Linked DNA regions of Homo sapiens: regions 1, 3 and 4 are each linked to region 2. The links come from fine-mapping of genetic effects on gene expression. A gene starts in region 2. Each other region holds a variant in brackets. All regions are shown on one strand. Distances are between the middles of the regions.

Region 1 (7,818 bases), 89 kb after region 2:
CTCAGCAACCTTGAGAGGCAGGAAGTGTTATTCCAGTTTTGCAATTCAAGTTCCAGTGAGATCAAATGACCTAATAACTAATTTGTGCAGACCCAGACACAAACCACGATCTCTGACTCTGAATCTTGATTTTTATCAATAACTCTTGGTGATTAGTATGTAGATTTTTTTTCCTTTTTGCAAGTGTGTATCTTTTTTTATTACCCTGTGCCTTTCTGGAATGCATTAATGTTGTCACTGGAAGATTACACTGTATGTATTTAGTGAGCTAGATATTTTTGTTTTCTCCCTGCCGTATCGCCCACATGTCCCCACCAAAAACAGTGAAGGCCAAGTTATACAACGATTATCTAAAGCACTTATTTTAAATTTATAGATACTAGAATAAGTTTATTGACTTAGAGATGCTGCTTAGGAATAAACTATTACTCTATCAACTTTTATAAAAATATATTTTGCCATTTTTTAACTATTTTAGATATTATAAGCAAAACAAAAAATAGAAACCAGGGTTTTGGAATTGAAAATATTATTAGGATATTACTAAATGTTAAAGAAATTTCCCTGGAAATTACCTGAAGATGATGAGTAGAGGGGGAATGGAGAGAGAGAATTATGTTACTTAGCATCTCAGTAACTGGCTATCATAGTGAATATTAAACTTTTCCTCACCACAAGTATTTTTAGGAGTCATATGTTTTCTACTGGAGTACATATCTGCTTAGAATAGGAGAATAAGAGTTGCTTCAGGAAAAGTTACTTGGCAAGTGAATTTGGAATAGACCTCTAGTGAAAGCCAAAGGAAAATAAGTGCTCATGGTGCTCACTAGCACATTCCCTCACTCTTGCTCTCTCTCTCTCTCTCCCTCCCTCCCTCCCTCATTCTCTCTCTCTCTCTCATGCTGCCATATACACACTATACGCACGTATGTATACTCACACATTTGTATGTGTGTACTATATGTATAGAATGTATTTAGAGTAAGGTGAACAAAAGCTGGCCCTATGTCTATTAAAGGTCTGAAATGATAACTAAGCATGAGGCAGAACAACTTCTAAGATGTATTTGGGAACCACCCTTGCACAGCATAGTGATTTTTTATATATACATGAAAAGTATGGCAGGATGATAAATACTGTCCATTTGTTTACATGAATTTAAAAGGGCATTTAGAAGCAAGTGAACTATCTAATTTCATTTAAGAAATAACAGCTTTTGAGTTGCGAGCTAAATTAAATTTAAAGAATCCTGTCATTACCTACATGACCCTTTTATTACATGAGTTAGAACACAGAGCAGGTTATGTCTTTCTGGGTATATGACAACTAAATTACAATAAAGCTTCATCTACTCATGCTAACCTTATTCTCAAAGGTCTAATGATACAAAGAGGTTCTATTGTGTCCTGTGGCCCACTTTACATAATTGCTATGTTCCTTAAAAGTAGTAAAAGGGGAAGATTTGAGAGAGGTATAACAACAAAAAATCAACCTAATGAAACTATATTTAAGTAGATTCATTCTTTAAGAATTAATTGAACATACTATGCAGAAGGTAATGTACTAATCAAAAATGGCAAAATTATGTTAATGGTTTTTGACTCAAAAAATTTTTCTGGTGGATAAGGTGATGTACTTTGGAAACTATGCACAAGGTACCCTGGGGTATTTCACTCCTGCATTGTGCTAGTCACTTGGCTACGTCTTTACTCTTTCTGCCATACTCTACATGCTAGAGGGAAACCTGTGTCTTTAAAAACAACATTTAAAAAAATTTTCATATATTTATTGCAGACAGGGTCTTGCTTTGTCACCTAGGCTGGAGTGCAGTGGCACAATCGTGGCTCACTGCAGCCTTGACATCCCAGGCTTAAGTGATCCTCCCGGCTCAGCCTACCGAGTAGCTGAGACTAGAGGTGCATATCAGCATGCCAGGCTATTTTTTAAATTTGTTTGGTAGAGATGAAGTATTATTATGTCATCCAGGCTCTTGGCTTCAAGTGATCCTCCTGCCATGGGCTCCGAAAATGCTGAGATTACAGGTGTGGGCCACTGCACCCAGCCGGAAACCTGTGTCTTGTCTTTGGATTTGCTCTACTTCATTGTCACACAGAGATGGGTGTGATAGATCATCATAGCTAATTATTGAACAAAAGGATTTACATGTTTCCTTTAAATATAGACAAGGTCCTAAAAGAATTTAAAATAGACTTCTGTGTAAAACAAGAAAGGTTCTTGGATTGCAAAGACGATGTGCTCTAAATGTAGGTGATGCCAGGAGCAGTGCTTTAGAACAGCGAGTACGTCAAATCACCTGAAACTGAAACTCAGGTACAGCGTGTATGTAGAACTGTCATTCTCTAGTTTGCTGGTTGAGTGATGAGACTGCAGTCAAGGTGTAGGCTGGGGCTCAAGTCTTTACTGGGGAGAGATTTGCTTCCAAGCTCACTCTTGTGACTATTGGCCTGAGATGTCAGTTGCCACATGGGACTCCCCATAGGGCAGCTGGATTCTCTCAGAGCAGGAGGGTACCTAAAATAACACCATGGTCTTTTCGTAACCTAATCTCAGAAATGACAGCCAATCACTGTTGCTGCATTCTATTTACTGGAAGTGAGTCACTAAGTCCAGCCCACGTACAAAGGGAGGAGACTGCACAAGGAAGCAGTCATTGGACATCATCTTAGAGAAGGCCCACCATGGTAAATGTATTTCCTTAAACTGAGTATATAAAAATATTATTTTAACATGTAGTCAGCATACAATAATTACCAATAGATATTTAATACCTTTTACTAAGTCTATGGAATATAGTGTGTATTTTACACTTATAGCACTTCTCAACTCAGATGTTATATTTTCATTGGAAATACCCGATCTGTATTTAGATGTCATGAAATTTATACTTGAAAAAATAGATTCTGGGCCAGCACGGTGGCTCACACCTGTAACTTCAGCACTTTAGGAGGCCGAGGCAAGTGGATCATTTGAGGATAGGAGTTCATGACCAGCCTGGCCAACGTGGTGCGACCCTGTCTCTACAAAAATTAGCTGGGCATGGTAATGAATGCCTATACTTCCAGCTACTCAGGAGGCTGAGGCACGAGAATTGCTTGAACCCAAGAGGCTGAGGTTGCAGTGAGCTGAGATCGTACCACTGCCTTCCAGCCTGGGTGACGGAGTGAGCCTCTGTCTTAAAAAAAAAAAAAAAAAAAATTCCCATACTCAACTTATCCCAAATATACTTAAACATTTTCCAGTAACTGAATCAAGTATCAGTTTTAAAATTCAAATTAAAACTAAATAAACTAAAACTGTAGTCCCTCAGTCACACTAATTATGCTTCAAGTGCTCAGTAGCTACATGGCCGCCATATTGGACAGCAGAGTCCTAGAAGTTTTGCTGCAAAAGAAAGGCGGGTAATGACAAGGTACTTGAAAGAGTACTTGGAAGAAGCAGGCAAGTCGTATTTAAGATAATAGAAATCTCTGCATTTTTTTTTTTTGTTTGTGCACCTTGGAGAGAGAGATTTAAGGTGGCAGAAACATGGGATGTAATTGATGGGACT[A/G]TGGATTATTGGTCAGACTTAAGTGGAGGTGCTATGGGGGCAGAAAGCCTGAAGTGATGAATGGCTTGTGGTAGGGACTTGGTATTCCAGGTGTTGAAATGTAAAATAATTGAGTGTGGGAGACTGAAACAAGAGCTTTTCAAAATTTTCTTTTGGGTTTGCCATTCCCTTTATCATTTTTTCCTAGTGTGAATGCCAAGAGAGAGAAAAGCACTTGGAAATGGATCCCATTTTCCAGGCTTCTGTTTCCTGTGAGCCTCAGAGGAGACCCTTTCCTGACCAGGAGCAGAAGTGTTCTCAGCATAGGAAGAACTCCCTGGGAATGGGCGTCCTGTCCATGTGACTCTTTCAACCAAATGCTACTTGTAAATTAGTGCAGCCACTGTGCCCTGCCTTGACCCTAGTCCTAACTATCTTGTCTCCATTTCCAGTTTCTAAACAAAATTGTGCATAAATATTTTATGTCAGAGGTAAAGGGGCATGGGATCATCTTGTTCAATACCTGTATTTTGTAAATGAGAAAATGGAAGGCCAGAGAAATTAAGTGATTTACTTACGGTAACACAAGTGGCCATTTAGGATACTCCCAGGCCTTTTGATGTCCAGTATATTGTTTCTCCAACCTCACCTGGGGAAGTAGCTGTCTCAGTGGTAGGGCTGGGGTATGGGTACATCTGGTATCTGCCTTCCTGTTTAAATGTTGAGGCTTATGGCCCTTGCTAGGGTTATTGGGTAGTGGGGAGTGGATTTGGTGGGTTTTCATTTGTAGTTGTCCCATGCTCTCTGTGCTTTTGGGCAAATTTCTTAAACCTCTGTAAACCCCAACTAAATGGCAGTGGTAACTGCCTCATAAGATTAAACGTAGACAAAAAGCACCTGTACAGGACTTAGAAGATATTCAATAACCACATATTTTTTTCTCCTTCACTACCTGGCTTTTGCTCATTCACTTGTTGTTTTTGTTTATTTTGATGAATGTTTAAGATCTCAAAGAAATGATGTAATGTGGTAGTAAAGAGCACCAACTTCAGAATCAGACACCTTGGGTTTAAATTTCAGCTCCACCACTTACTGGCTAAGGAACCTTAGGCAAGTTCCTTAATCTGTCTGCATGTCACCCTCATCTGGAATGTGGAGGTGGCAGCACTTGCTTCATATAGTGTAGTAAGGACACGAGTTAGTGCAGGTAAAAAACATTTTCTAACACACAGTCAACACTCAAGGATTAGCTGCTGTTGATACTGGATAGAAACTACTTTTTCTTGTGTTCTGTTTGGCTTTTACTGTTGGGACATGACACTAGCATTCCATATGTGCTTCTTTGATGTGAATATGCCACTGCCTCTTTGCTTGGTACATTATACCAAGTATAACTGAAAGTTGAGTCCCATTCCTAAAAATGAAAAATTAGATTATTCTTTTCTGATATTAATCATAATTCTCATTGGTCAAAGGAAGCTACAGATTTGAGTCCTGTCCCACAGATTACATGGCTTCAGGCAAATTACCGAGCGTCTGGGCAAAATGAGGGAGTCTTCATACAATCTAAAATTTTGTCAGTCCCAATTTAATCCCTTCCCCAAATAGGAAAACCATTTAGAAACTTCCTGAGGATTGAGATCTTTTATCCATGTGCATGTCTTTGGGGCTTATTTAAACACTGGGAGTTATTTGGGTGGCCTTTGCTAGGGTTATTGGCGGGGGGATTTGGTGGGTTTTCATTTGTAATTGTCCCATGTTCTATGCGCTTTGGGGCAAATTTCTTAAACCTCTGTAAACCCCAGCTAAATGGCAGTGGCAATGGCCTCATAAGATTAAATGTAGACCAAAAGCACCTTTAAAGGACTTAGCAGTAGATATTCATGAATGACTTGAATGACTTCTTATACCTCTGGCTACAGAACAGGTTGACTCTCAGCAACCCACCAAGTTTTTGCTCTCCTATGAACTGATGAAACTAATATGACCTTCCCTCCCTTCCTTCCTCAACTAAATAAAAAAAAATGCTCATAGAGAACCCCATCTTGTGCCAGTTATAGTTCTAGGTGCCAGCAGAGAATGAGACAGGCCACGTCCCAGCCCTCCAGGAATTTTTATTCTGGGGTCAAATAAAAAACAAGGAAATAAGTAAATAAGCAGGATGATTTCAGATAGTGATAAATGTGATGGGGACCAAGCAGGGCTATGTGAAGAGTGGGCCACGATGGGTGGGGTGTGCCTTGGTACCTTTTTTGAGTGGTTAGAGAATACCTCTAAGAGGAGGAAATATTTTATCTGAATTCTGAATGACCTCAAGGAGCAGGCAATTTGAAGTTTTCTGGTTAAAAGCATTTTGGACCGAGGGCAAAGCTATGGAAGGCTCTTGGATGTGAAGAGACTGGGTCTATTTCAGGAAAGAATGCCAGTGTGAATTACATGGGGCATTGAAACTGGGAGTAACAAGAGGGGCGCTGAGGTTGTCTCATTGGTTCTCAGACTTTAGCATACATCAGAATCACTTGGAGAGTTGTCAAATGTGGATTGTAAGGCCCTGCCCTTAATGTTTCTGATTATGTCTGTCTCAGGGGTGCGGCAGCCAAGTACTATGGCTGCTGCTCTGAAACCATACTTTGAGAACCACCAGGCTAGCTCATTTGGGGCCTGCAAGCCAAGGAAAAGAATTTGGGTTCATCAATGCATTGGAAGGCCAGTGAAGGATTAGAGAGATGTGATCTGATTTATGTCTTCTTTCTTGTTTTTCTCCCCCACTGACCTAATGGCATACATATTTAAAAGTTCACTCTGACTACTACAGGGGAGAATAGATTTTAAGGGACAAGAGGAGAAACAGGAGAGACCAGTGAAAAGGCTTTTGAAGCAGTTTGGGCAAGAAAAGATGATGCCTTGATTACCAGGGTGGTAGCAGGGAGCTGGTGAAAAGTATAGAAGTTCAGGATATGTTTTAGAGTTTAGATCCCAGGGGAATTGTTAACAGATTGGAAATAGGAGATAAAGGACAGAGAGGAATTAAAGTATGCCTGCTGGAGTTTTTTTGCTTGAGTTAACTGGGTGGTTAGTGGAGCCATTTGTAGAGATGGGGAATAATATAGAGTAGGTTTGTGTGAGAATGAGGATTAGAGATGAAGAGGAGAATCAAGTTTTGGTTATAGAACATTTGAGATACCTATGGGACATCCAAATGGAGATAACCATGAGATTGTTGGGAATAAAAGTCAGAGCTCAATAAACAAGTCAGGTTGGAGATGTAAATTTGACGGCCACTGACATATAGTGATATTTGAAGCCATGGGCTTTTATGAAGTCTCTTGGAGGTGGAGGTTGTAGAAAGAAGAGAAAAAGGCAGAGAATGGACCCTGGGTTGCCCCAACATTTAGAAATCAGAGGAGGTGAGGATGGGGAGACTGAGGAGTGGCAGTGAAGAAGGAAGAAACAGTAGATTGTGTGCCCACATGAAGAAGCCAAGGGAAGACAATCCCTCACAGAGGACTTGAGTGGCTGTGAAATAGTGCTCAGTGTGACCAAGATGAGACAGACAGTTGTCTATGATTTGGACCCTCATAGGTTATTGGCAACCTTGAGAAAAAAAAAATGTAATATGAGAGTCATATAATGTTTTGGGTTTCTCCTTGTCGATTTTCATTATTGCATATCTTTTCAAGCCCTTTTGACATACTCACTATTTGAAATTAGGCTCATCAAGAAAAAAGGGCTTTATTGTTTTTAATTGTATTCTCTTGAGCACATAATACAATGTTATGCCCACTTCTGAACAAATCTTGTTTAAAAAATTCTTCTGTTGTTTCATTAAACCCAGACAGAGAAACTGAGAAATCGTGTTGAGAAATTGGTCTTCAATTTATAATTGAAATACATACTTTAGTGGCCATCAAAACACTGCCAGTTATTTTGAAGGACTGCCTCATCAACACTTACCACAATAAATCCTATCTATGTTTGATTGCCCTCTTTGTGCTGAGAGAGGGTTACTGTTAAATTTATTTTTGGTCTTTAGACTGCAATACTTAAAAACCCTATTGTTTTAAGACTGAGAATTCACTCATATTTTTGTATTTAATATTGAAGCCATATTTTTTGTATAGCACTTTTCTGAATGAATCTATAAGAATACTTTATAAATATGATAAATACAGCAAACTGATGAGAGCCCATTGGAGTTGAGTAGCTTATTAAGGATGTAAGTATATCTCATACAGCATTTTAAACCTTTGCTTTTTCAAATCAAGACTAGA
Region 2 (7,818 bases):
ATGAAACAAAATCAAAAATTTTTTTTCATGAATAGACATTTCTGTGTTAAGGAAACTATAATATTTCAACAAACATATCTGTTGAGTTTATTCTTACCTACTAATTGTTGGTCAGTTTGAAAAAAAGGCATTAAAATAAGATTACAAATTGGAATAGGAGGGAAGGGAAAAGGAGATATACCCGTGATAAAGACAGCAGTGGCTAATTACAAAACCTGGCCCAGGATTCCTGACAGCCAAAGAAAATATTTTTGGTACTTTGAAATAAAGCTCTCATGAAGCATTTATATAGGGAACATCAAATTCTAACAACACTTTCTATGTGTTAATACATGTAGGAATACTCAAATTATGAAAGCACTACACAGAGATGAATGGATAATTAACTATTATGCATATATTACTGAATTGAGAATAAAGCTACAATTCTGACTTTCAGCTCCCTGTTTTCATCAACAAAGTCTTATGCATAAATAACATAACATATTTTCTGAGATTGGGCAGTTTCTATGAAATACAAAGTCTGAAATAAGACTTTTATTAAAACTGAAATGTAACAACTCTGATCTTGTTATATAAAACCACAAACACACACATGTACACAATCTAAGAAGACATAAAATAAACACTTCCTTTAGGTTGTAATGTGCAAAGGTGAAATGCACAGAAAGATATTAACCATCTTTTAAGTGTAATTTTTCAGTTTTAAATAAAGCTTTTCAAGTGGTACTTATAGTGGAATAAAAACATACTTAAAATAAGCATTTAAAAATGTTTTCATTATTCCAAATAGTTTACAAAAATTTTAGACAAACTCCAACCATTATGGCCCACTTTAACATGCCTATCTGCTTTTTATATAAGCACACAGGTATTTATTAAGCATGTAAACCTCCTTTCCATTTATTACTATCCAGGAGGAATATGAAACCTAGATTATTATTCAGAGAGATATATAGCTAAGTGGACCTTCATTTAGCTTCATTCTACCCATTGATTTTGGTACTAACCCCATTAGGTAACCACGTGAAGAATAAGTCTTCTTTCTCTAGTAAGACAAACTCACCTTCCATCTGTTCCATTTAAAATGGCCTACCAGCCCCTTTGAGTTGAAGTCTTTCCCTGAATCAAGTTCCTTTTAGGATTCTTCTGAGGAGGGAAGGCCTGAAGGTTTCCTTCATTCCTTTATTCAGTACACAAATACTGGTGGAGAGTCTCCTGTGTTCTGGGCTATGCTTTCAGGAGACAAAGGATAAGACGTGGTCCTTTAAGAGTAGGCTGGGCACTGTGGCTCACGCCTATAATCCCAGCACTTTGGGAGGCCGAGGCAGGCGGATCACAAGGTCAGGAGTTCAAGACCAGCCTGGCCAACATGGTAAAACCCCATCTCTGCTAAAAATATAAAAAATTAGCCGGGCACGTGGCACATGCCTGTAGTCCCAGCTATTCGGGAGGCTGAGGCAGGAGAATCACTTGATCCTGGGTGGTGGAGGTTACAGTGAGCCAAGATCATGCCACTGCAGTCCAGCCTGGGTGACAGTGAGACTCTGTCTCAAAAAAAAAAAAAAAAGAGAATAAACCCCTCCAACTCTGCATTATGTAAATGAATAACTGAAACAAAGTGTCATGGGTCCTTGCCCTACCTAACAGAACCTACTGGGGGCCAAGAAAGGGAAGGGCTACTTCTATTTCTGCAATGAGGGAAGTATTCCTGAGGGGATAATACCTATGCTTAGGCACTTAAAATGATCGGCTGGGTGGTGAAATGAGGGGGAGATTCCCAAACGGGGAAATTGAGCGCAATCTTGGAAACGTGGGCAATTTTGAAACAGCTCTGCATAACTAGAAAGATTGGAAAACAGCAGTTTTCTCCTGTTATGTGAAAAGATTTATAGCAGCCAGGCATGGTGGCTTATGCCTGTAATTCCAGCACTTTGGGAGGCTGTGGTGGGCAGATCACCTGAGGCCAGGAGTTCGAGACCAGCCTGGCCAACATGGTGAAACCTTGTCTCTACTAAAAATATAAAAATTAGCCAGGCGTGGTGGTGGTCACCTGTAATCCCAGCTACTCGGGAGGCTGAGGCAGGAGAATCACTTGAACCCCAGAGATGGAGGTTGCAGTGAGCCGAGATCGCATCACTGCACTCCAGCCTGGGCAACAGGAACAAGACTCCTTCTCCAAAAAAAAAAAAAAAAAAAAAAAAAAGATTTATAGCAAATCTGTGATTATTATTTTGCTAATCACTGGCTACAGTGAGGATAGCTTAGTACCATTATGTGAAGACCACCAAGCTTGGTGGTGCTCTTAAGTGGTTTTGCCCAACATGAGCTTATTTCTTGCTTATGTGGATTCTGTTGTAGGTCCTGGGACTCTCCAGGGCAGCTGTGCTCTGGGTAATAGTTTAGCATTCCAGTCTTGTGTCACCTTCATTTTAATACATGCTTTCATGATTGCAGTAGCAAAGGAAGGGAACATAGAGACTCAAACACTGGCAGTAATTTCACCAGGAAATAAAGCATTTCATGTCTGTTCACATTTCCACTTATCAAAGTCACAGGGTCATACCTAATTTCCATGGGGTGGAGCATATAGTTCTCCCTAGGACCAGAAGGAGGACAGCAAAAAGTGGTAAGCACTGAAAATGCCTTCAGTGGTTACGAAATGTTATGAATGTTTTATGACTAAGATTAGCCTAATCTTACTGGTATTAGGGTCCATAATATTACTAGTATGTCATAAATTAAGGCTGAAACTAATTAAAGATTTAATCTTGTCTTGTGATTGAAAGTTATGGACTTTCAAGTAGTTTCACTGTTACTCAATATTTGCATCATTGTCTGTGCAAGCAACTGTAAAAGCTTGCACAGCTCTGTATTCAGAAGCATAAATGATTCATGAAATTGTTTAAACAGAGTTATTGTTTAAAGACTAAAACCCAGAGGTATTTAAATAAATTGCTTTACTCTTAGTTAAAATCTCTAAAAGCAACTTTTTCTAATATGGTTCCAGTATTGTAATCCAAATGAGCCATGTGTTTTTTTCTTTTCATATTTAAGATGCACTGAAAGGACATTATGCACTGAAAGAAATAAATACCAATGCCTGCGTGTGGTAGACAAATGGCACATTGCTAGGCATTTAGTTCAGCAATCTTTTTTTGTTGCTGCAATGGATAACCAACTAAAGGAGCATTAATATCAATTTAATTGTAATACCTGCCAAATGTTATTCTATCAGTGGCTAACACAGGTTTATTACTTGATGTTAGTGCTACAACAGAAGTCCCCTGCAGGATGTTCCTTCCTGTAAGATCTCTCCATCAGTTTAATCCAAATATGTTTTTAAAACTCTAATTTTAAATTCATTTCTTAATGTCACGTTGTTTTCTGAAAACACATTTTTGGGCCCATCAGAATGGCGCGCATCTTAAAACAATTGGCGCTTATGAAAAATATAAAATATGTAAATATATTAGGGTGGTGCAAAAGTAATTGCGGTTTTGTCATTACTTTTTAAAAAAAAAAAAAATGGCAAAAACCGCAGTTACTTTTGCACCAACCTAGTACCTGTCTGTCAGGTGTAAAGAATCATCTAAAGGGCATGCACGTGGATACTAAAACGTACAAACAAGCACACAGCTGTGTCTGATTCCTTTACCCTTGTAAAAGTTCCAATAAGTGAATACAATCTATTACTTAATTCTTAGTTTATAGACTGTCATTAGACATACTGTTGTCCAGTTCTCATGTCAGAGCTGTTATAGGCTTTTACAAAAAATGCCTCTGAAGACAGGGCAAGCTTAAACCTGCCACCAATTAGAAAGATCTGTGTCACAGGTGCGCTTTTAAAAGAATGGCAATCTTAAAGGTCAAGTTAAAAACACAAATTTAAAAAAACGATCCTGGACGTCGAGGGTCGGACTCTAGGGGGGGCAAGCTGCAGGCCCCACTCTGCGAGTTTCTGACCGCATTCCGCGGAGGCCCCAATCCTCCCCGCGGATCCTGGCAAGGCAGGTAACCTCCCTTCCCCCGCACCTGTCCGGTTCAGGCGCACCAGCCTTCCCGAAGCGCAGCCTAGCGGTGGGAATGGGAACACCTCGTCTGGGAGCTTTCTTTCGGTTCAGCTTCCCCAGCCGGACCCCAAAGACCCGAAGCCCTGGGGGAAGGAAATTCCAACTTGCTCCCGGCCCACCCCCGCCCCGTTCCTCTCTCCGGCTCGCTGCTTCCCTCGCTCCAATGCCGCCGAGCTGGTCCCCACTTATGTGCGGCCGTGCTGCAGAGGCGGCGGCGAGCTCCCGGACTCCGGGCAGGGAAATGGGGCAGGGTGAGTGAGAGAGCGGGCTCCAGCGAGGCCCCCAGCGCCCAGCCAGCGCCCGCACCCCGCCCGCGGGACAGGGGAGGTGCTGAGTCGGCCCTGCCCGCGCTGGGCTGAGCCTCGCAGGGGTTGCCGCTTCTCCATTCAAGTCCTGGCTTGAGAGCCGAGCGGCAAGAGCGCGGGCCGGGGAAGGGAAGAGTAGGAGAGGAAGCCGCGAGGGAGAACAGGCGAGCTACTGTCTCCTTTGGAAAAGAACGTAGGAGCCTTGGGTGGGAAAAGAGAGATCAGCCCTCCCAACTTCTCTTCGGGAAAAGTTTTCCTAGGGCGTTTTGTTTGTGCAAACTCGGCCGGAGGAGCCTGGGAGTGCGCTGCCGGCGTGGCAGCGGTGCCCGTGCGCCCGGCCCCGCTCCTCCTCCTTTTCCAGCCCCGGCGGCTCCTCTCCCTCCGAGAGGCGCCAAATGGCTACCCAGTAAACCCCACGGGGCGGGGGCTGCAGCGCCACCGCCTCCTCCGCCGTGCTCTGGGCGCCCGCTAGACCTTGTAGAGACGGCGGCGGCGCCCGCGGGCTGGGAGCCGGGGCCCGCAGGTGGAAGCGCACCCGGGAGGCGGGCCGGCCGGGGCTGGAGCGGCTCGGGCGGGCTCTTGACGCTCAGCCAGCTTCGCTCCGGCCTCGGGAAGGCGCGCGTCCCGCCCTGACCCGCCGGCCTCTCCCACCCCAGCAGTGACGCGCCGCCTGGGAGCTGGAGCCCGCGCAGCGCCCCGCAGGGCGATGGACGGCCGAACCCCGCGCCCGCAGGACGCCCCAGCCAGGTAAGCCCAGAGCGCCGCGCCGCCTCTCACCGGGGAGGGCGAGGCCGGCGAGGACAGCGAGGCCTCGGCCGTTTCACCTGGCTGGCAACTCGCTGCCCTGCCGGCGGCCTGACTCACTGACTGTCCTCCACGCGGCCGGGGAGGCTGCTTCCTCCCGGCCTTCTCGGAGGCCGCCCGGGCGGAGGGCTCGGGTCGTTTTTGGTTGCCTTCCTACCGGGGCTGCCCTGGGTTGCTACAGGCCAGCTGAATGCCAGGAATTGGGTGAGGAGTCCGGGAGCAAAAATTGTAACAAAGGGACCCTTGTTTGGGCTCTGGGGGAGCGGTGGACGATACCTGTAAGTGAGCTCCTGGGGAGGGAGGGCAAAAGTTTCCTTGGTCATGGGCTGAGGCCCAGGCAGGTGAGCAATGTCAAGGTGACTGTAGGGAGTGGGCTTTCTGCAGGCGGGTGGAGGGCGACAGGAGGGTGTGCCAGCTGTCAGCCCGCATGACAGTTCCGGGAGCGAGCGGGGTGCGCGCCTCTGATTGGGGGTGTGTGTGCCTGTGGCCAATTGCTGGTTCCAAAACCCAGCGCAAATCAGATTGCAAACAACTCTACTTTTCTTTTTATCCTCACATGTTTGAGAAGAGAGGAAGGGGGCTGTCACATGGTGAGTTAATATTAAATGAGGCATGTCTTCCTGCCAGATATGCTAATAGTTACCTTGTTAAGCGTTTGAGTAAACAGTAATGAGAACAGGTAGTTCTGCAAGAGATGAAGAAAACCTGAAAATAACCTTGGTCTTAGTAAATAGTTCAGGAGTAACCTGGATGCTAGTTGAGTTTCTCAAGTAGGAAACTCGTTTGATGTAGTACAAGATTTTTCCCCCCAGCATAAGTGTTCCTCCAACATAGTTTATTTTCTTAGTTAATCTGAATGCAGAAATGCCCTAATGAGAATACGAGCATTCCAGAAATAGAAACGTTAAGGAAAAATCGACGTTGTCACTAATGAATGAGACTTGTACAGTTTTCCTGATTTAAGAGTGTAGAAGTCATTTTTCCCTGGAACATGACAGGCGTTTCCTTAGAAGCAAGTCACAGCATGTTTATTCATCAGAGACCATGCGAACATTGGCAGCTGTCTAGAGGAAACATGGAAAAGTCTCAAAGCAACATGACTAATCTAAAAGATATTTAGTATAATTTTTACATAGAGGAAACATGTAGTGTATTAATTATTTCATTTTGCTCAAATTAACTTTCTCCTTTCTGCAAATATTACTCCCACTGTTGACTTTCATTTCTTTTCTTTCCCCAGGTTTTTCATTGCTTAAATATTTTCATATATCCTGACATATATTCTCACATTAGGATGAGTAAAGAAATATATCGGTAGAAAGATATTGAGCATACAAGCAAGGTTCCTAAGTGGAGCTGCAAAATTATGTGAATTGACGATGAGACAGCTGTCAGGATACCGAAATGTATTCAGGGATTGCAAAATGAGATAGAATTAAATTGGATTTGGAAATGGATTAGGTTAAGGTACTTTAAAAAACAAAAAAGAAAGAAAAACATACCTGCTTTCACAAAATACACCCATGGGTGTTCAGAAGTCACTGGGGACTTTTAAGTAAAATAGGTGAGGTCAGATGGCTCTGTGTTGAAGAAACAGAAGAACACTTTTTGCTGGCAAGCATAACTGTAGTAAGAACCTTCAGACTTTACTCTTGATATTTTATTTTAATGTAGAGACAAGGTCTTGCTATGTTGCCTAGTTGATCCGAAACCCCAGGCTTCAAGCAATCCTCTCACCTTGGCTTCCCAAAGTGTTGGGTTTACCAGTATGAGCCAGTGCGCCCAGCCACTTTTGAGAATTTAAAGGTTAAACTGATAAGTTCTTTGCTTAAAAAGAAAGTACAAAAGAGCCTTATCTAATTTGTCAAGCATTTGTAAAGGACTTTTGCCGTCCCCTTTTCAAATTTAAGTAGGGAAAATCTGTCAACACCTTATCTAAAATAACACAGTAGTTCTATCATTTTGCCTTACATTATTCTACTCAGAGAAGTTATCATTACCTGAAAAATATCAACATGAAAAAATTACCTCTCTACTTCATTTGTCTTATTTCACTTGTCTAACTTGTCCTTTGGCATATTCCGAATGCCTGTCATATAAGATTTGTTGAATATTTAATATTCAGTATTGCTTCTCTTCTCTCTCAAAAACCCAAATTATAAAAGGTTTAAACTGGGGGAAAAATATCTAGATAAGGGTATTTGGGAAGTGGCAGGCAGAAATCTTAATATGTTATAATTGTTAGGTTTTGGAGATAAATTTCTTGCTATAAAACTGACTAATTATATCATAACTCATTACTTTAATAGACAATGAAGCCTAGTTTAGTCTTTATCCTTGGATATTACTGTTGGAAAGAATTCCTCTGTAATTTTCCAAGTTTTACATTGTTGTAACATGTCATTTTAACATAGCACCAAGTTTTGTTCTCCACATTTTATAAATGAGAATCTGAAGCTCAGAAACACTGAGTGTGTTGAAGTCCCAGCAAATTAGTAGTAAAACCAGAAGAAAAACTCCAAGTGCCTAGTTCATTTTGTTAATTGCTTTTTATCTTTTCTTGACCATGGTATGATATAACATACCATGACGTTATACATTTTAACGGATAACTTATATTTAACCATTAACTCTGT
Region 3 (7,818 bases), 120 kb after region 2:
AAATGCAAACATTTATTCAACATGAATCTGTTTCACTAAGAGAAATAAAAGTTTAGTGAAGCTGACAATTATTTACATACTCTTTGCATAGAGACTTCAAAATTTATCCTGAGGTGGTGGCTTTATGTAATCCATAGACTACTTTTTCAACTCAGTGATGTTTTATACTTGAACAAACATCATCTTCACAGTCAATTTACCCTCTTTTATACCCCTCCTTCTGTAGCCACTTCTGTTACTGTCTTCAGTAAGTCATCTTTACAAGGTAAGATGTATGAATCAGTAGAAACAAATTATAACATGAAATTGGATATATTGAAATTAAGCTTCTAATTTTACCCTTTCTTAACATCACTAACGTGTTCATTCTGTATGAGATTTTAACCTAGAAAATATTTGGGTTTTATTTCCTTGAAAAATGTATAGGTTCCTTCCCCTTGATTTCTGAATTTAATTATAATAATTTCATTTCAACAAATGTTTAAAAATTATTCTAACAGTGTGGGAAAACGTATTCTTTACTCTCATACAAGGAAAAATGATTTACTAGGATCTTTACTGGGTACAAATGCTAATAGCTTGGTAGTACCGAGGAAGCATTTCAGATTATTTCACTGAACAGTAATTCAGAATAATGGTGTTATATTAATCATATGAAATTTTGCAGTCATTGTTTGTGAATATTTTGTAATAAGATGGAAAATGCTTATGTTGAAATTAGCTTTTATACCATATAAGTGTGTTTAACACAATAGGTGAATAAATGCTTTTATATGAAATTGCTGAAAGGAAATACATAAAAAATTTCAATAGTGGTTACCTTTGGGTGGTAGGGTTATGGTATGTGATTTTTTTATTATTTATTTTCTTTATAATACAGAATTATATAATGGGCATACATTCCTTTCATAGAGAAAAACTGTATTAAAAATTGCCCAATAATAAATTGTGGAAGTCTTTTTTCACCCATTAAGAAAAAGTCTCAAATAATTGATTACCCTAATAATTACCAGCCTACTAAAAAAACAAGCCTTAACAAACTGCATATATTATGTGTTAGTGAAATCTCACCTTCTACTTCTATAATAATAGGAGATTAGAAATAGTGGTCTCTGTGGTTCTTTCTAGCAACAACATTTTATTACTTGTACTTGACTTTTACTCCTAATTTTGCCACTCTCTATCTGCATAATCCTAAGCAAATTCCATAAACTTTCTGGCCTCATTTTGAGGTTGTCGAATGCACTGATTTCTAATATCCCTTCCAGTAATGGAAGGATGTGGTTTATTTAGAATATGAAATGTTGTGGACAAATCTTAAGAGAGTGAAATATTAAAATTAAGAAAGTTTACAGTATCAGAATCTACAAGGTCAATCCAAATGCTGTCACTACCCTTGCCTCCTTATTTTTTCTGATACTATTTTGAAAACTTAGAACTTACCATGCAATTATATTTAGCCTGCCTTCTAGAAACAGGAAACTACAGTATTTGAGTTGCTTTTCTAAGTAAGCTAAAGCCTTTGCTTGTCTTACTGTTTAACCTGACTTGCTATGATCCCTGATGTAGAGCTTTAAGTGAAAACTTAATGGCTAACTAGTGTGGAGGATGACCATGTACCTGAAAATTTCTTCACCAAAAATAACCATATGGGCCAGGCACGGTGGCTCACACCTATCATTCCAACACTTTGGGAGGTCAAGGTGGGAAGATTGCTTGAGCCTAGGAATTTGCGACCAGCCTGGGAAACATGGCAAAATCCCATCTCCACAAAAAATACAAAAATTAGCCGGGTGTGGTGGCACATGCCTGTAGTCCCAGCTACTCAGAAGGCTGAGGTGGGAGGATCACCTAAGCCCAGGGAGGTCAGGGCTGTGGTGAGCCATGACCCTGCCAGTGCACTCCAGACTGGGTGACAGAGTGAGACCGTTTCAAAAAAATAAATAAAAAATAAAAAATATTCTGGTTATATTTATTGTATTGCACAACCATATGAATTTTTCATCTACTGTTCTGAGTAAATTTAATTGTGTATCCATATGCGATAAGCGGTGTATTCCATCTTAAATTGAAATAGTGGCAAATGTAAAAATAATACAAATATAAATAATCTTTAAATGGATACCAGTTTTAGTTCTACTGTTTAATGCCTGTTTGTCTTTGTGCAAGTTACGAAAACTCTCTGTTCACTTATAGTTCCTGAGAGCGTAATGGAGTAATACCACTGCTTTCATTTTATATATATATATATATATATATATATATATATCCTGCAGGGTAAATGCTAGCATCTTCCAATGAGAAAAAGGGCTCAGAGTGATAACTTTTGATACTTCCCTCACAAGGTCATTCTAAGAAACATTTAGGCATGCAAAAAAACTTTAACCATAAAGTGCTATCTACGTGTTCGTTATTATTAGTTGCTAGCATTGTCAAACTCATTGTGCAGAATGTATGCTGCTTATTTAATATTTGAATCATCAGATTTAAAAGTTTTACTTTGTAAAATAGTTTTCCTTTCATATGTTATTGAGGCATATTGTATTATTGTATTTATTTGGTGTTAACTAGCTTTCCTTTCCTGAAGTAGTCCCTATTTTGCCATAATTTATTTTGGTTTTCTTAGACAGGTATTTTAAATAAAAGCATTTAAGACTATATATTTATCTATTAGTTTAGCTTTAGTTATGTCTCACAAATTTTAATACACAATATTTTATGTCAAATGTTATTGAAATTATATTGTGATTTACCATAAAATCCATATGTTGCTTAGTAGAAGAAATATTTTTTTAGTTTTACAGATCACCACTCATTGTTTTTCCAACCTTTTAGAAAAATTTGCTACTCATTTATTGAAGAAACTAGGTCATTTGTTTTATAGCTTCCCGTGTTCAGATTTTTACTGTTTGCCTCCTGTGGTGTCACTTAATGTTTAACTTATTGCCAATGTCATTGAAATTTTATTTCAATGTAAATTTCCCCTCTCTTTCCTGTAAATTGATGGTTAAATCTAGAGGCTTGATCAGATTTTGGCGAGAGATTTTTTGGCAAGAATACTTCACAAGTGTTGCTGTGTACTTCCATCAGCAAACATGTAACAAC[G/A]AGTTATTTTTTTCTGATGTTAGCCATCAATGATCTTTGTCTACATCTTAGTTAATTAAGATTTGAAAAATGGTGAAAGTCTATTGCAGTCAATATTACTGAAAAAGTAAGGTTCTCCGTGTCAGCTATATGACTGCTACATAAGTCGAATTCAATCAGAAAAAGGTAGAATAGGCTGGATGAGGTGGCTCATGCCTGTAATCCTAGCACTTTGGGAGGCCGAGGCGGGTGGATCACCTGAGGCCAGGAGTTCGAGACCAGCCTGGCCAATATGGCGAAACCCTGTCTCTACTAAAAATACAAACATTAGCCAGGCATGGGGATGCATGCCTGTAGTCCCAGCTACTTGGGAGGCTGAGGCAGGAGAATCGCTTGAACCGAGGACTCAGAGGTTGCAGTGAGCCAAGATCACGCCACTGCACTCCAGCCTGGGCGACAGAGTGAGATTCAAAAAAAGACTGTCTCAATAAATAAATAAATAAATAAGAAAAGAAAAAGGTATAATAAAAGTTGGATGATTTCCTTTCATCAGTTTTTAAAATAATGGACTGGTTCTCTAGCATAACACAAAGGTGAAAAAAGAGTTTTTTTTTTTTAGTATCATTATGAACATATGAAATTAAACACATGTGACATGTTTCAGTTTATTGAGTTACTTTTATGATGTCCAAATTATCCTTATTTTTACCAGTAGAAACTGTCTCAAGTTGGTTCCTGAGTCCTTTTAACACAACCTGGTAGACTTTGATAGCATTCTTTCTAGTATGGCTAGATGTCCCAAGTTTATCTTGTAGATTCTTTGATACCAACAGAGAATCAACCATTCTCAAGTAATCATGGTTTCTTTTAATGGGAAATGGAATTTATAGCCAATTTGGGCCAGGGAGGCTCAGCACTACTGGCTGTGTCATTGTTTGTAGGCCCTTCAGTTGATATTAGGAGATGCTTTTTGGAAAATTTTATATAAATATTATGTATACAACCTTGAGGTTTGACATTTGCCCTTCTAACTAAAGTAGGGCTTCCTAATTTTCAGCACTATTAACATTTGAGACAAGATAATTCTGTCATTAGGGACTGTCTTTTGCAATGTGCTATGTTTGGAATCCTCACTGGCCTCTACCCAGTAAATGCAGACAGCACAGTCTCCTAACCTCATTGCCAATGGTGGCAATCAAATTGTCCCCAGACTTTGTCAAATGTCCTCTGGGGGACAAAATTGGTCCCAGTTGAGACCCACCCTATTAAAGAAATAACTTTTATGAAACATTTAACAAAGTACTGAGCAATTATAATGACTCACATTTTGTAGAATAAGATATTTCATAGTTGTTTAGCTGTGAGACAAAAGTATAATCAAAATAAAGGAACAAACTGTGTGGTAGCGATTTCATGTCTTGTGTAATTTGAAGTGTCCTTTCTATTTTGCTTCTATACTTCAAAAGCAGAACACAGACTCTGAGTCAAAAAAATTGAGTTTGTGTCGTAGCTCTGTCATTTCCTGAGTGTTGGCCTGGATTATGTATCTTAGTTTTTTAAGCTTCAGTTTCCTCTGCTGTGAAATAGGAACAATATTTGCTTGTTGCTTTGAGAACTTAATAAGATTTAAGGTGCTTCTTTGTAGACTATAATTAGTAGCTTTTAGCATTAGATAAGTTTGCAAAGGGGAAGTAAGAGAAAGAAATCTTGGAAGTGAACAGTCAACCTCACATACAAAAGTAAGATGCTTTTCTTCTATTTTAGAGTCCTGCCAAATATCACAAAACCTAGATATTATGAAGGAGAAAGAAAATAAAGGGTTTTTCAGTTTTTTTCAACGCAGTAAGAAAAAGCGAGACCAAGTAAGTATTTTCTTATATTGCATTTTGTAAGATTCTTCAATTATTTTTAATTACTAATGCTTTTTACTAATATCTTGAAATTACTAGATTTTGTCTTTGTCATTCTTTACTAGACTGCAAGTGCCCCTGCAACCCCTCTAGTAAATAAGCACCGCCCAACTTTTACAAGGTCCAATACCATTTCCAAACCATATATTTCCAACACCCTGCCGTCGGATGCACCCAAGAAGAGGCGGGCTCCACTGCCCCCGATGCCAGCATCTCAGAGTGTCCCCCAAGACCTTGCACACATCCAGGAGAGGCCTGCTTCTTGTATAGTGAAATCCATGAGCGTGGATGAGACAGATAAGGTGTGTAGTTTTGTTTTCTATTTTGTTTTTTTGGATGAGGCAGTGTACCATTTATTTTTCCTCTTACCTAACATCTTTTCTAGGTAGACTAGTAAGAAGTAGTCCTATAACAGTTGGTAATTAGTAACAGTTACTAATATGTAATAAGATGAATAGCTCATTCTAAGATTGGTACTAGGAATAGATCTTCTATGTACATACAGGTCTGTGATGCAGTAAAGGATAAATGTCCATTTTAAGTAACTTTCATATTCAAGCAAAAAAAAATCTGAAAACCTAAAGTCTTGGTTTACTAAGGCCTAACTAGGGGCTCTTGCTAGGTGCATGTAATAGGAATGGAAATACAGTCTTTATTTTTGAATAGTTCTTTTTTATACAGTAACACAGTCTTTGAGTTGTGTTCATGGGTTTCTAACCACACGTATTTTCTTGACCTGACTCAGATTCTCCAGGGAATAGCCTGGTATCTACCTAGTACATAGATACTCCACAGTGAAAAAAGAAAATGAGCCTTTTTATATAGAATATATCACAGTTACCTTTATGCACCCTTATCTTCAAAGCACAGTTCTATGTGTACCTTTTTCTCAAAGTTTCTTACTATTACACACCTTTAATCTCAAATTTTCCCTGAGTTTGCCATTTTGTGGAGATCCATTTGCAAACTACTTTTCATGACTAAACAATCTGCATATTCCTTGCTTTATCCATGTGAAAAATAAATGAATTTTTAGGTATATATGATTGAAGATGAGACTGTATATATTGTTGCTGGTAATCAGAAAGAATGATTTAAGTAACTTTGAGAGCAGATTTTATTTGGAGATAATTGAGACACTGAGAAGTTTTCTTGTGTCTAGTTGAAAGATTTTGTTTCCCCCTTGGGGGCTTAGTAAATGCAATGCTAAAGTAAATTAACTCTTCCCAAGCACCTGGTACACATTTCTGTGCTTCCTTTACTTAAAAAAAATTAACCATAGTTTTAAAATGTAGTTTATAGGCTATCATACATGCAACTCAAAGAGATAGAAATGAATTTTGAAAATGCTTAACCTCAGTACTTGGAAAATTATCTATTAAGTTTCTTATTTCTATGAAGACTTTCTTGTCTAATTTAGTATTTGTGGTATAAAATCTCATCTTATAAAATCTCATCCAATCTCACAAATCAGGAGGATAATGTTTTTGTCAAGTTATAGAGTCACATACTGACAAAGAATTTGCAGGGTAACTGCTTGAGAGTTGGGAGAATCTTCACGGAGAGATGATTCTTGAGTTCACTCTTAAAATATGTGTGGGAGTGCATTAGGCCAAGGAACCCTGTTAAGAGACGCAGGAATGTGAACACGATGGCTTGCCTGGACATGAGCAAGAAACAGAGACTGAAATTAAGCATGGTAAGCAGGGGTCAAGTCAGGGTCCCAAAGACTTTATTTTGTGCTTGTAGCCCTTTTAAATTTATTCACAATAAGAAGTAGCATTTTTAGGGTTGTTGTATCATAGAAGAGTGTAAATTATACTCTTGAGTAGCTACCTTTTTGCATATATTAATATATATAGAAATATACTTTAGCCCATGCTCACAAATCTTTATTCCAGCTGTCCTCATCCAATCTATTTCAGTAAACTTCCTTTGTACTTGGCTCCCCAAGAGGTCTATGTTGTCTTTCTAATAGTCTGTTTCTTAAAATTCTGGGCTGTGCCACCAGTGACCTCACTGAAAGCTATTTCTTTTGATTCTCTCCCTCTGCTCTGTGACCAGTTGCTGCCCCTGTGTTAAGTAATCTTTTTTTTTTTAGTATGTTGCCTTTGGCAAACTACACATCTTTATACAATTTTCTAATTATTTTTTCTTTTGATCTGGACATCTGGATAGTTCTTTGATGTATTGTTCAGTAGGACCCAGACTTATTTGTCTTTCCCTAGAGAAGCTGAAGAACCATTTTTTATTTATTCATTGCAAAAATTCTTAGTGATAAAGCTGTAGTGCACACAAAAATTCATACCTTCCTAGGCATCTCTGCAACTAACTTCTTGATATATTTGATGTGGTTAATTACCCCCTTGGTCTTGATTTGTCTTTTTCTTCCTTGGTCTTGAACCTCTTCTTATATCTCAGCCCTCTTCTATTTTTTTTTTCTTGTCACTGTTTCTTTTATTCATTTTCTAAATTTGGAGGTACTAAATCCATGGTCTTGGTCTATATTTCTGCACTTATTCAGAGAAGACATCTCTTCTTTTTTGAGTTTGTGGGCTGATGGTTCTCAACTGTAGTGGTTTGAATATGTTCCTTGCAAAAGGTATGTCTGAGCTCTAACCCTTCCAAAACCTGTGATTCTGACCTTATTTAGAAATAGAATTTTTGCAGATGTACTTAAGGATCTAGAAATGAACTCATATTGGATTTGAGGTGGGCTCAAATCCAGTGGCAGGTATCCTTATAAGAAGAGGAGACACACAGGCAGAGAGACACAGAGAAGGTCGTGTGAAGACAGGCAGAAATTGGCATTATGCTGCCACAG
Region 4 (7,818 bases), 150 kb before region 2:
TGCTGCTGCCCGCTTTTCCCTTTTGATCTCTCTCTGGCTCTGACTCTGTCTCTGTCTCTCTCCCCTCCCCCGTCTCACCTCTCTCTCACAAGAGATTTTATTATCATCCAATGTCGTTCAGGAAGAGGATCATTTATTGCGTACTTTTTACAAGTTCAGCACTGTGCTAGCCTCTGTGGGGATTCCCAAAACAGGAAGTAGACAGGTGCCATAGGATGCGCAGAAGGAAGCGCTGGTGTAGGTGTGGTCCACAGATGACTGGAAGGGAAACGGAGCTTGCATTGGTGTCATTACCAACAGGTTTGTGATATGTATACATTTCTGGATGCAGTATGGTTAAACAGGCGCATTTAAAAGAGCCCCCACCCCAGAGGGTGAAAATATAGACCAAAAAAAAAGTTCATTAAAAAGCAAATTTTCACTAGTGGCTCTGTAACTATGAATTTACATTTTAAATTTCCTGATAACTTTTCAACCACAAAGATTGAGAGCCTGGCCAAATTATTTGGTTCTCTGCCCAAAGATTGGTAATAGAGTCACGTAGAATATTTTTTTCTCCTCTTTAAAGATGAATCAGAGGATGCTGGGTTTCACTGAACATTTCTGAAGATTTTCCACATCACAAAGCCCTCCAGGCACAGCTCAGCATTTTGTAGAACAGCGTTAAATCTTAAAAGAAGTAAAATGCTGCCCTCTCGTGGCGGATATACAAAACTGATGAAAACAGTATTCCTTCCTGTTATTGAAAAGCAGCCAAGTCCAAAGCAGAGAGCAGTATTTAGATTTTAAATGAGTTTGCAAATAAAAAGACTAGAGTACCTTAATATGACGTGAGTAAACCTTTCAGGAAATAAAATTTTAAATCAGATCAGATCAAAGTGTTCCAAAATGGGGCTTAATACTGTAATTACCACCATGACTCTGCATATATGCAGATTTTCCCCCAAGGAGTTCAAACTTTGACTCAAAATCCAGTAATCTTGAATCCTGGTCTAATCCTTACCATCTAAAGAAAGCACACTTAGAGTAATTGTTCAATAGAAAATTTATCAGGTCCTTCCTCATCCTGCCCCCAGCCAGATGTGTTCTCTTCCTGCTCTGAATTCCAATAAGACATAATGCTACATGTATATGGGTCTCTTTTTCTGTCGGCACGTAATAGTTTTAGAACCTTTGTGGCCTCTAAGATAGGCATGACACGTGGTGCATGCTTAAGAAATGTTTGAATAAATGAATGAATAAATAAATAGGAATTAAATGAATAAATGTATAGCTATGATAAATATTCCCTATTTCCCTTATTTAAGCAAAAAAAAATTACTATTTGTTATGCAAATACCAATGCCTGCAAGTCTTGTTGCACTGGCTCAGAGGCCATGCAACATATCTTTGAAAACAGTCAGGAAGGCAAGAGTGGCTCCAAATCAAGCCTGGGTGCATTGCTGTACTTTGTGGACATCAGGAATGGGCACTCTGGCTCTGCCTACTCCTGGATAGGCCCTACAAGGATTATACAGATTCTGACACATAAAAGCAAGGGAGAAGAATACCTGAGAAGCAGATTAAGGCAGGGTTCCTCACCCCACTGCCCACAGGAAATTCTCTTCAGTGGGCCACAGAGCTAAATGTACAAGCCAAATGCTTCCTGAAAGGTTGGTGCAGATGTAGTAAACAATAGCCTATGTAAGCACCACTGAACCACATCAGTCTAGAAGTTTCTGTTTCTGATTCAGGCACTGTTCCCAGGTCAGGTGCTCTGTGAGTGCTAGCTGGGAGTGGTGGTGTTGGTGGTGGTTGAGATATAACAACACATAGCAATATTAGATGCCTATTAAGTTCAGGCTCTGAATGACTCCTGCTTGCCCTTGGACAAGCAAGCTGGGAATGTGTGAATGTCAGCAGTGGGTATTTATACTTGGCTCCAAACTTCTCCAGACAAGTTCTTACTTGTTCCCCTCCACCAGTGGTTGCTTGAGCCTTTCTGCTGTTTAGCCTCATTCCTTTAAGCTGTGAACCCAGACTCCTCTTTTGAGTCCTTTTATGGATAACTTGATTCAGTCACAATGCAACAGACTCCAGGACAACTTTTTTTTTCTCTATCTCTGGCTCCCAGAACCACAGCATAAATTTAAAAAAAAAAAAAAAGGACTCCCTTCTGTGCACTTCTTGGGCACTGTGACAGCTGAAGGACAAGCCTGCCTTTCAGCCAGGATTCCATTTCCCTAGAGAATATTAGGTATTGGATGAGATAGGAGATGAGAGGTAAAAATGAACAGTGGCACACACACACACACACACACACACACACACACATGCTTCTAATTGCCAAACTTCTCTAAAGGATGCTTGAGACCTGTCCCACTTTCTTTAGCATTTACTAATTCCTTGACTTCCTCTGACCACAATACCCAGGCCTCTCTCTTATGGAGCTCTAGTGGCCCCCCTTGCTGAACATCATGGTCTTCTCTCAGTTCTTATTCTCTTTGACATCTTGCCAACATCTGACTTTTCTGACATCCTCAATTGCCTGTTCCTGGAACAGTCTTCTGATTTTCCTCCCAGGACTAATCACAAGTTAGTAAGAATCCAAGCAACTTTTATTTCTTTCATTGATTTATTTATTTTTTGAGACAGAGTCTTGCTCTGTTGCTCAGGCTGCAGTGCAGTGGTGTGATCATGACTCACTGCAGCCTCAAATTCCTGGGCTCCAGCAATCCTGCCATCTCAGCCTCCCAAGTAGCTGGGACTATGGGTATGTGCCACCATACCCAACTTTTTTTTTTCTTTTTTTTTTTTTGGTAGAGGCAGGGTCTTAATATGTTGCCTAGGTTGGTCTCAAACTCCTGGGCTCAATCAGTCCTCCCACCTCAGCTTCCCAAAGCACTGGGATTACAGATGTGACCACCACACACAGCCCATTTCTTTTAAAGCGTCCCAACATTTCCATATGTTTTAAATATTTATTGCTTCTAAATTAAAAGTTTAATACATATTCACAAAATATAGAGACATGATCTCATTTAGAGATCCAAATGTGAAGCTTGTGTGACTGTGAAGGCCCGCTGTGATGGGGCCATTGTAATAGGTTTCTCTTACCTCTCTACCTGGCTTTCACATCTCCTTCAATAACTTGCTTCCTCTTCTTGCTGCAAGACTGGGTCCTCAATCCCAATCTCTCTCCACTTACTTCCCCTTTGCCTACCAATCCTGCCTTCTAGCACCAGATGGTTTTTTGTTGTTGTTGTTTTTTGTTTTTTAAGATAGAGCTTCACTCTTTTGCCCAGGCTGGAGTGAAGTGGTGCGATCTCAGCTCACTGCAACCTCCACCCCCCAGGTTCAAGCAATTCTCCTGCCTCAGTCCCCCGATTAGCTGGGATTACAGGTGCCCACCACCACACCCAGCTAATTTTTTGTGTTTTTAGTAGAGATAGGGTTTCATCATGTTGGCCAGGCTGGTCTCGAACTCCTGACCTCAGGTGATCCACCCGCCTCGGCCTCCCAAAGTGCTAGGATTACGAGCATGAGCCACCACACCCAGCCCAGTTGTCATTTTTATACTAATGACTACTCAATTGATGTACCAAACCAAACCTCTCATCCAAGCCTGGATTCCAATACCTCTAGTTGTCTACAGAACATCTAAATCTTACCATTTGCAAACTGAACACATCATCCTCCCTCTGGTTGGCAAACTAGCTTTTCT[C/G]TTTCTCCTATCTCAAATCTTATCTCAGCAGAAGCCAAGGGTTCCATATAGGGCTATCTGTAGAGAAGAGGGTGCTCATCCTATTTCAGCTTTCAGAATTATGATGGGTATGGTGGTCTAAGACAGAGAAATCAATTTGAAGGAATTTGACAGAATATTATAGCTAGTTATAATGGGATGGATAGTAAGCTGTTAGACCTTTCCAGAAAAGAAGTTCTCGAAGTAAAAGGCAGAGTTCTGACCTTTTATATAGAAACTGGTGCAATGGTTATGGGTGGAGGGGCAGCTGTTAAGGATGTCCAGTTTAGACATCTCTTAGCAAACTGGAAAGCTATCTCCTTCATGCTTATACTGAAGACCCATTTGTTAATTACATGCATGTTGTCTTAGTCCATTTGTGCTCCTGTAACAAAATACCACAGACTATTTTATAAAGAAAAAAATGTACTTTCTCACAGTTTCAGTGGCTGGAAAATATAAGGTAAGGCTCTAGGCATTTGATCTAGTGAGGGCCTTCTTGCTGCATCCTCACATGGCATAAGGTGGAAAGGCAACTAGACAAGCACTGTGTGACGCCTCTTTTATAAGGGCCTTTTAACTCCATTAGCCAGGAAGAGACTGTAAGGCCTAATCACCTCTTAAAGACCATCTTAATACCTTAATACCGATCTCAATCACTTCCTAATACCATCATATTGGCAACAACTGAACTTCGGAGGGGACACATTCAAATCATAACATATGTTGTAATAAGCTGCAAAATGTAAGTTTTAATAGAATAAACTTTTGTTTACCTCTATCATTTATTCACTCTATGAGTTTTTTTGTAATAAATTTTTATCCCAATATTATAACGATCTCTCAGGAAATCTCTTTATGGTCTGAGATCATCTGACAGCACCATGTACAATCTGTCCTTCTCATAGGAGCAGATGAAATCAACCAGTGGTATTGATGGTTATCTTTTCTTAAGCCGGTTATTGCAGGCATCTGTCTGTCTCTTTGTGGAAGACTCCATGCACATTACCACAGGAAGGAGATCTTGTGATGTAGGCAACTTCCTGGTTAAAGCTCTTGTCAGTTTAAACATGATTACTTACTTTCTGACGTTTGCACTAAGTAGAAAAATATGGTACTTAGAGTCCTAATGAGTATCAACTTTAACCTACCCCAAATGAGGTAAGATCATTGGATATCAGAATTGGAACACAATTTATGTCCTGAAAAAAATAATGAGAAAGATCAAATAAGAGTTATGTAATCTTACTGCAACAACCTAGCTGTAGGAAATAGACACCCTCTATCATCTGCCCCAAAAGATGGAGTGGTCTGAGCCACTAATCCAATTCTAGGGATCCAGATGATTCAGGTAATTCATGAATCCCATCTTCAGACAGAAGGCAAGAGCAGTGCATGAGATATCTCAGTAGCATGATATTCCATTTTATAGGAGCTAAGGGGAAATTGAAACTCTGTGTAGAGTCTCTGTCTCTTAGTGTACTGAAATTTCTCTTTCATTGTAATAAAAAAGATCTGGCCCAAAGGAAAAAAAATTGTCAAAAATTTTGGTATTTCTCAAGGCACCTGAACAAATATACCATAGCCATCTAGGGTTATATTGTCACCACCAGTTGTGTAATTAAAACAAAAAAAACCTTTAAAATTCAGTATCAGAAAGATATAATTAAGAAGAAGAATATCCTTTTATGTATGACAAATCAGCATGTAAATACTTAAAGACTAAAGCTAAGTTATTTTTAAACTATTCATTTTTAAATGATTTGTACAAACATTCCTCTAGGATATGACATTTAAAAATAAAATGTGATTCTATTTATAAAGTCTGTATTAAACAGAATGCTGTATTAAATAAATATATCTAATATGAATGGAATTAGAACTAAATTTTAGTTTGGACAATAGATATTTGTCCAAAAAACTTAAGATTGCAGAAAAGGCTACAATGGCTGATTTCCTTTGGCAAATGGTGGCATACTGCAAGAAAATTTTATCAGAAAATTTTTGTTTTGTCCTTATTTTAGCCTAAGAAAGTTTATAATTCAATTCCCCTTACAAATATATCATAATAAAGATTAGGTGAATTTACCTTGTAAGAGGAAAATTGGAAAAGAGGAAATATCATATAATTTGTAACAACATTTGCAAGGAAAATTCTATAATTAATATATGCCAAATATATTTAGTGAAACCAGAGTTTATTGTTTACCATGCAGCTAGAAGTCCTAATATATTTTTCTTTGCTCTTTTTTTCCTGTTTTTAATATAATCTGTTCCTAAAAACTGCCCAAGTCTTCACCAGCCAACTTAAGGTGATTCCGTGACACCCCATTAAGTTATCATTTATCCTCATTGATCTCATCACCTGCAAACTTTTCAAAGATACTGATACTCTATCTGTCCTTCCTAAATTACCATAGTTCCCTTCATCCCAGTTTCTACTACTACAAGTCGTTGGAAACTTGCTTATGAAGATTGTTACTAATAACCTAATCCCCAAATCAAACCACCTTTCTCTCTCCCTTTATCTCAGTCAAGTTTAATCAATATTTGGCCCTATTAATGTTCCTCTTTTTCCTTGAAATTTATTCTTTAGGTGTTTTATTCTAGCTTATCCCCCACATTTCTTTTTGACAGCTCATTTTCAATCTGTACCTCTTCTACACACTAAGGGCTTTTCTTTGGTTCTGACTTTTCCTCTTATTCACAATTGACAGTTCACATGACCTCATTCTGTATTTCCCCTCTCTCATTTTCCCAGGCTTAAACACTTGGAGAGATTTTCTCTTAACACTCCCCTAAAAATGTGAGTTTATCTCATGGAGATTTAATAAAGCAAATGCTCTCTCCACAAAGAGATATCGTTGGACTGCTAAAAATTCAACACTGTTCTCAACTAAATTTTCTCCATTTATATTATTAAGACAGACTAATTAAACCCACAGTTCTCCACAATGACAACTGCCCTTACAGATTTGCTTTAAAAAAGTAGTCCATATATTCACTAAAATCTAGGGGATATTTAATAATATGAGTGCACCTCTTTTCTCCTTTAGGATATGGACAGGAACTTTCATTCAAAGTCAAGGCACATGCCTAAAATATTGCAGTAAGACAGTCTTCTCATTGTCTGTAGCATATACAGACACTGCTTACTTCTCCCCTTAATTCACTCTTAGATACTGAACTAACACTATGTTAAAGCAGAAATATGCAAGAATGTACTCTTAATAAATAAGGTCCCTGCTTAGTTGTGGTGGTATAATGTGAGGGGAAACTCAGGCAGTAAACAAGATCAGAGAAAAAAAGGAGGCAAGACAATCATAGTTGACAATAGATCTGTTCTTAGTTTCAGTTCTGTCACCAATATCTCAGAAACCCAGAAACAAAGGATGTATGGCTAATTCTACCTGAGAATTTCAGTGTGGCTCCATTTTGATGCAATCAAAACTTGAACTCATTTTCCAAGATTGAAAGCAATAGTCCCCCTACATACTACATATGGCTGTCATTGTCATTGTCATTTCCCCTTAAAATCATTTCATACCCCATTATATGTTCTATTTATGAATACCTTCCTTGGTCCATGAATCTGCCTTCACTCTCCGTATTCTTCTTCAGACCTAGACAGTATGCTTTTAAGAACTGAGTAACTTCATTCAGGATATGGCCACTACTATGAAGATGACTTTTGGACAAAGGACTGGTTTTAGGAATCCTGAAAGTTTCTGGGAGACTTTACCAGTCTTATTTCTGCAAGTCATGATTACCACATATTTTGTAGCTAAACAATTGCTGTTCCTACACAGTAAGATCATCATCTTGGTAAGTGACATTTTCATCAGTATGGGTTATTCTTTCATTCCATAATATCCTATCACCCAGACTTGGCCTTCGGGTTCTGGTTCACCCTTAGATATTTATGTTTTACGTTCTCCTGTGACAGTTAATTTATCTTGAGCATATCTCAGTCCCCAAAAAAAATGCTCTAATTTTTTTATATTTTTAAATGACTGTCACAGCAGCATTATTCAGAATAGTTAAAAAGTAGAAGCAACCCAAGTATCCATCAGCGAATTCGGATTAAAAAATTCTGC

Which allele goes with the higher level. Alleles are on the strand shown, and positions count from the first base shown. SD is a standard deviation of normalised expression in the study named. Not every link is listed here.
As copies of A replace G in region 3, the expression in sun-exposed skin of the gene that starts at base 4,458 in region 2 goes up (small effect, 0.27 SD a copy in GTEx).
With allele G in place of C in region 4, the expression in sigmoid colon of the gene that starts at base 4,458 in region 2 is lower (small effect, 0.28 SD a copy in GTEx).

What was found. PIP is the estimated chance that this variant, and not a neighbour inherited with it, causes the effect.
Region 1: its variant is the best candidate, but not a certain one, in a credible set for the expression of COBLL1 in blood mononuclear cells (TOPMed, PIP 0.79).
Region 3: its variant is the best candidate, but not a certain one, in a credible set for the expression of COBLL1 in sun-exposed skin (GTEx, PIP 0.64).
Region 4: its variant is the best candidate, but not a certain one, in a credible set for the expression of COBLL1 in sigmoid colon (GTEx, PIP 0.69).

Annotation. Positions count from the first base shown.
Region 1 is chr2:164,749,138-164,756,955 of GRCh38, reverse strand. All of the region lies in intron 2 of COBLL1 (cordon-bleu WH2 repeat protein like 1), which reads left to right. Among named protein-coding and RNA genes, the nearest start is that of SNORA70F, 65 kb to the right of the region's middle. The variant A/G (reference allele first, on the strand shown) is at 3,569.
Region 2 is chr2:164,838,463-164,846,280 of GRCh38, reverse strand. It overlaps COBLL1 (cordon-bleu WH2 repeat protein like 1), which reads left to right and starts at 4,458. Exons shown (of 14, transcript NM_001365672.2): 1 at 4,458-4,571; 2 at 5,035-5,125. The coding sequence starts at 5,085. LOC101929633 (a long non-coding RNA gene) reads right to left here and starts at 5,532. Exons shown (of 2, transcript NR_110574.1): 1 at 5,459-5,532. RefSeq lists a silencer at 4,275-4,484.
Region 3 is chr2:164,719,553-164,727,370 of GRCh38, reverse strand. It overlaps COBLL1 (cordon-bleu WH2 repeat protein like 1), which reads left to right. Exons shown (of 14, transcript NM_001365672.2): 6 at 4,849-4,946; 7 at 5,060-5,296. Among named protein-coding and RNA genes, the nearest start is that of SNORA70F, 36 kb to the right of the region's middle. The variant G/A (reference allele first, on the strand shown) is at 3,106.
Region 4 is chr2:164,985,901-164,993,718 of GRCh38, reverse strand. No RefSeq gene overlaps it. Among named protein-coding and RNA genes, the nearest start is that of SLC38A11, 34 kb to the right of the region's middle. The variant C/G (reference allele first, on the strand shown) is at 3,704.